2 separate regions of the Homo sapiens genome follow, and region 1 is linked to region 2. Evidence: fine-mapped QTL for protein levels in blood plasma. A gene starts in region 2. The other region holds a variant in brackets. All regions are shown on one strand. Distances are between the middles of the regions. Region 1 overlaps LY96 (lymphocyte antigen 96). Region 2 holds the start of LY96 (lymphocyte antigen 96).

Evidence for each region. PIP is the posterior inclusion probability: the model's chance that the variant is causal. The UK Biobank Pharma Proteomics Project read protein levels with antibody pairs (Olink). The fine-mapping took linkage between variants from a reference panel, not from the people measured, so its PIPs are less certain.
Region 1: its variant is fine-mapped to the plasma level of the LY96 protein (UK Biobank, PIP 0.99). The variant lies in the coding sequence of LY96. If it changes the protein, the assay may bind it differently, which can mimic a change of level.

The regions. Positions count from the first base shown.
Region 1 is chr8:74,001,976-74,007,356 of GRCh38, forward strand. It overlaps LY96 (lymphocyte antigen 96), which reads left to right. Exons shown (of 5, transcript NM_015364.5): 2 at 2,821-2,910. Among named protein-coding and RNA genes, the nearest start is that of LY96, 13 kb to the left of the region's middle. The variant A/G (reference allele first, on the strand shown) is at 2,874.
Region 2 is chr8:73,989,035-73,994,415 of GRCh38, forward strand. LY96 (lymphocyte antigen 96) reads left to right here and starts at 2,358. Exons shown (of 5, transcript NM_015364.5): 1 at 2,358-2,520. The coding sequence starts at 2,409. RefSeq lists enhancers at 2,600-2,699, 3,070-3,139.

The DNA.
Region 1 (5,381 bases), 13 kb after region 2:
TTCCCTCCCTCCCTCCCTCCTTTCTTCCTTTCTTCCTTCCTTCCTTCCTTCCTTCCTTCCTTCCTTCCTTCCTTCCTTCCTTCCTTCCTTCCTTCCTTCCTTTCTTTCTTTCTTTCTTTCTCTCTCTCTCTCTCTCTCTCTCTCTCTCTCTCTCTCTTTCTTTCCTTTTCTTTCTTTTTGAGACAGAGTCTTGCTCTTTTATCCAGGCTGGAGTGCAGTGGCGTGATCTCAGCTCACTGCAACCTCTGCTTCCCAGGCTCAACTGATTCTCATGCCTCAGCCTCCTGAGTAGCTGGGATTATAGCCATTATTTCTTTGAATAAACTTTCTGTAGTCTGTTCTTTTTTTCTTCCACTTCTGGAACTCTCATAATGCATATATGGTTCTGGTTGGTGGTGTCTCACCATTACCTTAAGTTTTCTTCACTCTTTTAAATTATTTTTTCCTTTTGCTCTTCTGATTGAATTCTTTTCCAGTGATCTCTCTCTGAGTTCACTGATCCTTTCTCTACTTGGTCTAGTCTGCTGCTGAACCCCTCCAGTGAACTTTTTAGTTCAGTTATTGTGTTCCTCAGCTCCATGATTTATTTATTTATTTCTTTTTTTTTTTTTTTTGAGACAGAGTCTTGTTCTGTTGCCCAGGCTGGAGTGTAGTGGCACAATCTTGGCTCACTGCAACCTCCGCCTCCTGGATTCAAGTGATTCTCCAGCCTCAGCCTCCCAAGTAGCTAGGATTACAGGCACATGCCACCACGCCCAGCTAATTTTTGTATTTTTTTCATAGAGGTGGGGTTTCACCATGTTGGCCAGGCTGTTCTAGAACTCCTGACCTCAGGTGATCTGCCCGCCTCGGCCTCCCAGAGTGCTGGGATTACAGGCATGAGTCACCGTGCCCAGCCTTCAGCTCCATGATTTCTGTGTGGTCCTTTAAAATGTTTTCTTTCTTCTTGTTGAAATTCTCACTGCATTCATGTATTGTTCTCTTGACCTCAGTGAGCATCTTTATGGAGGTATTTTAAATTGTCTGTCAGGTAAATCATATAACTTCATTTCCTTAGTGTAAGTGAGGAAGATTTGTCTTGCTCCTTTGTTTGAAACATCTTTGCCTGATCTTTCATTTTCCTTGTCTCTCTGTTTGGCATCTACACATTACAAAGCAGACATCTTTTTCAGTCTTCACAGATTGGCCTCACACAGGAACATACCCACACCTATTGTTGTGGGAATCAGGAGGACGAGAGAGACCTCGGGGGAAAGCAAGAGGATCTTTATTGAATGCACTCAGACCCAGCAGACTTAACATCCAAAAACTGGGCCCTGAACAAGGACAGCACTTGACTTTTATACACACTTCTAAAAGGGGGTGGGCTAGCTTGAAGCAGGCTTACAGTGGCACAAAAGCAAGGATATAGAGGCAGAACAATTAATCCAATTGTGACAGGTTCATAACTCAGGACTATACATGAACATTGCTATGCAACCCAGATGTCTGTTATCTAGGTTTTGCTCAAAAGAGCCTTGCACTGGTTTATCTCATAACCTTCACCATGGTGCCCAGACGGCTGTAGTTCAGGCCTGCTCAGGCTTCTCACGACCTTCGCTGTACTTCTTAGGTAAAACAGAATACTTGAAGTTCCTAGTTACAGAGAACAAGAATCTGTAAACTCATATCATAAAAGAAAGGAAAATTTGTTTTTCCTCTCCCTATGTTGAGGGAGTGCTGGAAGAGTCTCCAGAGCACATTTCTTTGTGTCCTATCTTCTCAGATAGTGTTTATCAAGACTTTTCCTGGGTCTGGGCCTTGCCTGCTACTGCCTTTGAGATGAGTCAGCCTAATACAGGAAAGCTTATTTCTTTCTCTTTTTAATTTTCTTTTTCTTTCTTTCTTTAATTTCCCACTTCACTATTAGCCTGGTTAGAGATTCTGGGGTCCTCTACCAACTCTTTCTCACTTCAGGGAGATGCAGGCAGCTGTGTTTTTTTGTCCACCTATTCCATACTGAGCCAGAGATGGGGTGGTGAAGGGAACTGTGGCATCTACCAGCCCAAGCTGCTGTCTCCATTCCCCTGCCAGGCAGCTAGACTATGCCAGACCTGTCAGAACTCTAGGACTGATGAGACAGATATAAGTTTTCTGGGGATCCCCAGAGAAATTGGGATGCTGGATGCATGGATTAACTCTTTCCCTCCCCGGGAGAAAGCTGAGAGCTAAGATTTTTCATCTTCTCACTCTGTGCTGAGCAGAGGGGAGGATTAATGATGCCTATCTGCCCAAGCCACTGCCTTTATTCTCCCCTGGGTGGTAGACTGTGCCAGACTCATCAGAGCTCCAAGACTGGCAAGACAGAAGCCAGTCCTCTGGGGAGCCCTCGTGAAAAAGTTGGTGTTCTGGACATGTGAAACAACTTCTCTCCTCCCATGGGTGGAGCTAGGAGCTGGTTGGGGGGGTCTCTTCCTGATTGTATGACACCACACCAGGGTAATAATCTCTGATTAGACAGTGTCCCAAGTCTCCCTACTGGCTTTGTTGAATCTGGTTTTGTGTTCTCCTTGCATGCAGGAGTCTTTCAATTAGTTTGATTTTTCATAAAGGGAATATTTCTGTAAATTGTTGTGTTAGTGGAGGCAAGAAGAGTTCAGGGCTTCTGATTCTGCCACATTGCTGATGTCATTCTTCTGGGGAGATATTTTCAATCATCATCAATTTTTCTTATTTTATAATTTTAATGCAAGATTCATCTTAAAAGGCTGATATTCAGAATACTATACTTAATGGAGATGATTTGTAGTAATTTATTGACATTATCTTTATTGCTTTTAGATAAAATGCAATACCCAATTTCAATTAATGTTAACCCCTGTATAGAATTGAAA[A/G]GATCCAAAGGATTATTGCACATTTTCTACATTCCAAGTAAGTTCAAATTTTTGCTTTTATAGACCAATCAAAGGAGTTAAGAAATATCAGTGATAAATGATTGTGTTTCAAATATACTTGTATTCGTTATCTATTGCTACGTAACAAATTACCACGATCTTTGTGGCTTAACACAGCACACATTTATTATCTCATCATCTTTGTTGATCAGTATTCTGGGCATAGCTTACCTGTGTCTGCTTCAAGGTCTCCCATAAGGCTACAATCAAGGTGTTTGCCAGGCTGGAGTCCCTTCTGAGGCTCAACTAGGAAATATATACTTCTAAGCTCACGTAGCTGTTGTCAGTATTCAGTTGTTAGTATTCAGTCCCTTGCTGGCTGTTGGCCACCCGTCAGTTCCTTACCACATGGGCATTTTCAGTATGGCTGCTTGCTTTTTCAAAGCCAGCGAGGGGGACAGTCAGCTAACTAGGCAAGTCACAATCTTATATAGCATAATCATGGAAGTAACACTCCATCATCTTTGCTGTGTTCTATTGGTTAGAAGCAAGTCACTAGGCTAGCCCATACTACTGGGAGAGGATTACACAAGAACATGTGGGTAGAAATGGGAATAACTTCAGCTGTCCAACAATCTTACAGGTATATCCTTCATCAATCATTAGCTATAAGTAATATTGGGTTTCCATTAGTCAAAGATCTGTGTGTCAGCAAGCCAGGACTTCAATATTTTTTAAAGATGGTCTTTCTAGAGAAAAATACAGTAATAATGGGATGACAGAAGGCCATGTGTTTTGTTTTGCTTTGTGTTGTGTCTTGGTTTTCCTCTCTATGACTTTGCTTGTTATCAGCTTAGAAAAAACTAACGCAGGTGGGGTGATAGCATGGGGCTGTATCTCAGTCTCTGTGCAGACACAAAACTTTTTCCTCTCCTACCAGTTACCAAACATTGTTTATTGCCTGTAAGCTCTGGAATCCCAGAAAACTTTAGTTTTAATCTTTATCATCATCATTATCACATAATTTACATCCTAGTTTAGATTTGGAGCTTGTTTTAGATTAATACTTTACAGAGTAGTTTTACATGAATAAGCTTAAACATTTTCCCCCGATTTTAGTTCTCTGGCTTACCAGAAAAATGAAAAACAACAACAACAAAATCCCCAAAACTGAGAACCCAGGAATGATAGACAACAAACTTGTGTTTTAATTTTCATGATTCTAGTTGTTCAACCTGTTTTTTTGACACTCTGTATCTGCATTCATTTATTCACTAAAAAGATGCTTAGTAAATTGTAAGTATCATGCTAGGCACTGTGAATTCATTGATAAGATATTCTCTCTCTCTCTCTTTTTTTCTTTTGAGATGGAGTCTCTGTCTGTTGCCCAGGCTGGAGTACAGTGGCATGATCTCGTCGGCTCACTGCAGCCTCTGCCTCCCGGGTTCAATCCATTCTCCTGCCTCAGCCTCCCGGGTAGCTGGGATTATAGGCACCCACCACCATGCCTGGCTAATTTTTGTATTTTTAGTAGAGAAGGGGTTTCACCATGCTGACCAGGCTGGTCTTGAACTCCTAACCTCAAGTGATCCACCCGCCTAGGCCTCCCAAAGTGCTGGGATTACAGGCGCGAGCCACCGTGCCCAGCCAATAAGACATTCTCCTGATCTTCAGGAATCCATCAGTGCAATAGGAGAGACAGAACTGCAGATAGTATGGTATAAGTGAAGTGACAGCAACAGGGCTTAGTGACAGCACAGAGCAAAGGATGATTAACTCTATTTCCTTCACTTTCCTGGCCAAAGATAAAATAAATAATCTAAAGTTTTGCTTGGCTAAGGCTCTACAGTTTCTTCTTTTTTCCTAGGTTCTGTTTTCTGGTCTGTTGGCAGGTTTTACCCCTACACAATTGGCATAAAGGATGATTTACATAATGAATAATCTCACTTTCAAGTGAATCCCTTGCCCTTACTCGCAGGAAACAGGTTGTATCTTTCCAGGCCAAGATAATAAGACAGTACGAAATCATTTAGAGTTCTCTGAAAAGCAGACACTAAGAAGGAATTAGGCTAGAGATTTCTTGGAGGAAACGCTTGTGAACAGTAAAGGGGAGAGGAAGCCAGAGTAGGCTAGGAGAAAATTCAGATTGGGGTGCAGGTCTGATACCTTTGAAAAGAGAGTAGGGAGGAAGGAGAATTAAGTAGGATAATCCTCAGACCAGAATGCATCCCTGAGACACTCTTGGGCTGGGCCAAATAGGAAGCCCCAGAGCAGAATGCCTGTTGTAAGAGACCCATGACAGGCGGGAGTAGCCTGGCTCTAGGGTCCTTGCAGTGCTGGATCATTATAGGAGCAGCCTACGAGAGGGTGGCCTCTGGCTGAGTGCTGAGATAGATGTGAAGGTATGGCAGCTGCAGGCTGTCTGCCAGCTACTCTTCTCACAGCAGCTGCTTTTGAAGGGAAATTTGAGGGACATACCTCAATGGCCATCACAAGTGTTTTATAATT
Region 2 (5,381 bases):
TGTGCAACAGATCTCTAGAACTCTTTCATCTTGTCAGCTTGAGACTCTATGCCCATTGAACAACTCCCCATTTCCCCCTCCTCCCTTGGACTTTTGCCTTTTTGAAAATGGCAGGGCCAAGAGCCACGGCTCAAACCTGTGGTCCCAGCTGAGCCCAGGAATTTGAGGCTGCAGTGTGTTATAATCACACCTAAGAATAGCCATTGCACCCCAGCATGGGCAACACAGTGAGACTTTATCTCTAAAAAAATGGAAAAAATCACACTTCTGTTGTAAAATATTTTTACCAACGTATGATTATTTTCTTCTTAAGTGTGCAGATTTTTAGGCCAAAACTCCATGCCATTTTTGGCTGCTAACCCTAAGCTATATCCTGTAAAGGATTTCAAGTAGCAAGATATCTAAAGGAATAGCTGTCTTTCTAAAATGGAGTGAGAGTTTTGAAATGAAATACATGTCATAACAAAAGGATGACATTTCATTATTAGGACTCAAAATGTTCTCTTGAGCTCTAGCTTGTTGTAGGTGAATACATTATTAAGACTGGTGGAGTCCCTGCCCACAGCACAGAATTACAGCTAGTGTCCCCTGTTTGGGGTCTTATCTGGCCCTGTTCTGTCCTGTAACTAAACCTGCTGCTGAAAAGAAATAGTTTCCATGAGACTGTTTACTTCAGATCTATAGGTGCAGCTCTCTGGGCCATGATAATTTGATTTGTTGTTGTTATTGTTGTTTTTTGAGATGGAGTCTCGCTCTGTCTCCCAGGCTGGAGTGCAGTGACATAATCTTGGCTCACTGCAAACTCCACCTCCTCGGTTCAAGCAATTCTCTTGCCTCAGCCTCCTGAGTAGCTGGGACTACAGGCACTTGCCACCATGCCTAGCTAATTTTTGTATTTTTAGTAGAGACAGGGTTTCACTATGTCGGTCAAGCTGGTTTCAAACTCCTGACCTCAGGTGATCCGCCCACCTTGACCTCCCAAAGTGCTGGGATTTACAGAGGTGAGCCACTGCGCCTGGCCTGTTTGTTTGTTTTTGAGACCGAGTCTCACTCTGTTGCCCAGGCTGGAGTGTAGTGGCCCAATCTTGGCTCACTGCAACCTCTGCCTCCTGGGTTCAAGCGATTCTCCTGCCTCAGCCTCCCGAGTAGCTGGGATTACAGGTGTGTGCCACCATGCCTGGCTAATTTTTATATTTTTAGTAGAGACGGAATTTCACCATGTTGGCCAGGCTGGTCTTGAACTCCTGACCTCAAGTGATCCACCCACCTTGGTATCCCAAAATGCTGGGATGACAGGCATGAGCCACCGTGCCCAGCTGAGAATTTGTTTTATAAAGCAGGAGGCCCCATCCTCTGGGGGCCGTGGACCAGTACCAGTCCATGGCCTGTTAGGAATCTGGTTGTGGCTTGTTAGGAAGTGGGCTGCACAGCTGGAGGTTAACAGCAGGTGAGCGAGCATTACCACCTGAGCTCCAGCTCCTGTCAGACCAGCAGCAGCATTAGATTCCCATGGGAGCAGGAACCTTGTTATGAAGTATACAAGCGAGGGATCTAGGTTGCGTGCTCCCTATAAGAATCTAATGCCTGATGTTCTGAGGTGGAACAGTTTCACCCTGAAACCATCCCTCCCCATCCCCTCAGTCCGTGGAAAAATTGTCTTCCATGAAACTGATCCCTGAGGCCAAAAATGTTGGGGACTGCTGTTATACAGAGCTGTAGGAGAGAAGAATAATGCAGAGGGAAAAGGAGTGCCTGTCTGTTGAGACTTTCAGGGGGACCTAGGGACTGGTTTTGTTACAGTTGACTGGGAATTGTCTTGTTTATTTTATTTTATTTTTCATTTAAAAAATTTTTTTGAAATGGAGTCTTGCTCTGTTGCCCAGGCTGGAGAGCAGTGGTGCCATCTTGGCTCACTGCAACCTCTGCCTCCCAGATAAAGTGAAGCTCCTGCCTCAGCCTCCTGAATAGCTGGGATTACAGGCATGCACTACCACACCTGGCTAATTTTTGTATTTTTAGTAGAGATGTGTTTCATCATGTCAGCCAGGCTGGTCTTGAACTCCTGACCTCAAGTGATCCACCTGCCTCAGCCTCCCAAAATACTGAGATTACAGGCATGAGCCACCGTGCCTGGCCAAAGTGTCTTGTTTTATTTTTAAGTCTTTGATCACTCTCATTTACAGTAAGTGTTTGAAGAGTACATTCTAAATCATTTTTCTCTCTTCCTTTACAGGAAGTGCTCAAATGTTGAGCACACACACACAAAAAAAGAGGAAACAGTTGGATAGGAACTCAGAAATCATGTGACTGATGACTAAGTTAAATCTTTTCTGCTTACTGAAAAGGAAGAGTCTGATGATTAGTTACTGATCCTCTTTGCATTTGTAAAGCTTTGGAGATATTGAATCATGTTACCATTTCTGTTTTTTTCCACCCTGTTTTCTTCCATATTTACTGAAGCTCAGAAGCAGTATTGGGTCTGCAACTCATCCGATGCAAGTATTTCATACACCTACTGTGGTAAGTAAAACCGCAAAACAAATAATTGTAGCATCAACTATTTTGAGGGTAAGTTTTCACGAGAACCGTACACTGTTGTGGCTGGAACACACGAAACATCAGTGTGTTCCAGCTGCTGTGGCGGACGCTGCCAGCAGGAAAAGCAATAGCTGGCAGCTGCCCCATGAGAATGTTCTCGACCACTCACAGAGCTTGTGAGTCTCTAAACTGTGTTGTGCTTGACCTCCAAGTGCTTCTGTTCCCTGCGTCATCTTTCTCTACCCTGAGCCCAGTTTTTGGTTCTGCCCATTTTTAATAAAACCATCTGCTTCTGAGCTTTCACCTCAGCCTTGACACTTACTAGTTCTTCTTCTTGAGATGGTAGAGCAGTCCCAGCTGCTTCCTGGAGTTGATTTCTGCTCTAAGCTGTGACTCTTGAGTGCTCTTGGAATCATCCCCCTCACTGGATGAAAGCCTGGTTCTGTCACTAGCTGTGTGACCTTAAGCAAAGTACTCCAGCCTTTTTAGCACTGAAGTGAAAGTGATTTTATAGTCTACTTGATAAGGGTGTTGTGAGGTGAAGTTTTTTAGCATAGGGTCACATAGAGACAATAATACTCTTAATTTTTTTTTGGAGTCAGCCATACCCTAATACTATTCACTGGCTGTGTCACTGTCCCCTGCCCCAGCTGCTCATTAGCAAGTGTCCTGGGATCTGAAGGCACAGTGTCAGGCCTGACAGCTGTTTTGGTTCGGTACTTTCCACCGTGCTGCTTACCATGGGTTGGCTGCCCTTTTCCACCCACTAGCAATAGCTGGGAGGTTTAAAGTGGTGCTTCCCAAAATACCAGTTCTTTGAGATTCTTTTGGGAAAATAGGATCTATGACCTAATCATCTGGGAGAGATTTACAGATGTACTTTGGGTTCTGAGAAGTTCTGCAATAAAGGCACCTGTTTAACCACATTTTCAATTTCATTTGTTGTTTGTTTGTTTGTGTTTTAGTCTGGAGTGTATGTTAACTCTCTTGAGAAACATGCTCTGCCAAATGCTAATATAAAGTGACTTTCGGGAAATTGGGATAATTGCCACATGTGAGGAGGAGACTTAGGAGTGTGGCCAGTCACACACCATGGCCCTTCTCCTGGTGGGTTGCACTGAATTCCCTCCAAACGTATGTCTAAAATCTCTCCATGCTGCAAGATCCTTTTGCATTCCCCTCTTCCAGCAAGGCTCCTACTCTACTTGGCCCCCACTTCCCTCTCCTCCTTTGGCTCTTTTGTACCATGTGCTAATTATGCCACTGTGTGTGTGTGTGTGTGTGTGTGTGTGTGTGTGTGTGTGACAGAGTTTTGCTCTGTTGCCAGGCTGGAGTGCAGTGGCGCGATTTCGGCTCACTGCAACCTCTGCCTCCCAAGTTCAAACGATTCCCATGCCTCAGCCTCCTGAGTAGCTGGGACTACAGGTGTGCGCCACCACACCCGGCTAATTTTTTTTTTTTTTGTATTTTAGTAGAGACAGGGTTTCATCATGTTGACCAGGATGGTCTCAATGTCCTGATCTTGTGATCTGCCCACCCCGGCCTCCCAAAGTGCTGGGATTACAGGCGTGTGCCACCTTGCCCGGTTTATGCCACTCTTTATATGGTTTTTATGGATGTAACATTTTGTATTATTATTTAGCTTTCAATCTTTTCTTAACAATAACTCAATTTGTCTTTTTAAAACATTTCACATTTTATCTTATTTTATCATTTATTTTTGAGACAGGGTTTTGCTCTGTTGTGCAGGCTGGAGTGAGTGGCATGATCTCCACTCACTGCAACCTCCACCTCCCTGGCTCAAGCCATCCTCCCAGCTCAGCCTTCCAAGTAGCTGGGACTACAGGCACATGCCACCACACTTGTCTAATTATTAATTAAATAATTTTTTTTGAGTTTCACTCTTGTTGCCCAGGCTGGAGTGCAATGGCATGATCTTGGCTCACTGCAACGACCGCCTCCTGGGTTCAAGTGATTCTCCTGCCTCAGCCTCCCGAGTAGCTGGGATTATAGGTGCCCACCACCACACCCAGCTAATTTTTGTATTTTTAGTAGAGACAGGGTTTTGCCATGTTGACCAGGCTGGCCTCCAACTCCTGACCTCAGGTGATCCGCCCACCTTGGCCTCCCAAAGTGTTGGGATTACAGGCGTGAGCCACCGCAGCTGGCCTAATTATTAATTTTTTTGTAGAGATGGAGTCTTGCTATATTGCCCAGGCTGGTCTGGAACTCCTGGGCTCAAGTGATTCTCCCACCTTGGCCTCCCAAAGTGCTGGGATTACAGATATGAGCCACTGCACCTGGCCTAAAATTTCACATTTTAATCATTTTTGAGTGTTTAGCTCAATTGTATTAAGTATATGCACATTGCTGTGAAACCATCACCGTTGGTGTATCTTTTGATTTGACTTTCTAGTTTTTTTTTTTACTTTGAGACAGTCTCATTCTGTCATCTAGGCTGGAGTGCAGTAGTACGATCTCAGCTCACTGCAACCTCTGCCTCCTGGGTTCAAGCGATTCTTTTGCCTCAGCCTCCTAAATAGCTGAGATTACAGATATGCACCACCATGCCTGGCTAATTTGATTTGACTTTATGAAGGAGGATCTTCCTTCCTTCTCTCTGAGAAACCCTGTGGTCCTTTCCTGCTGCCCCACTGACAAAGGGACTGTGGGCAAGCCACTGGAATACACATCTACAGCAAGATGTTGCTTGTTGCCATCCCCACTGCCATATGACTGCCTTCCCGGCCTGAGAGAATCCATCCTGCCCAGCCAAAAATGCATCACCTGTGGGAAGCACTGATTCCTCTAGGTACCATTGTGAGGGTGTTGGTGACAACAAC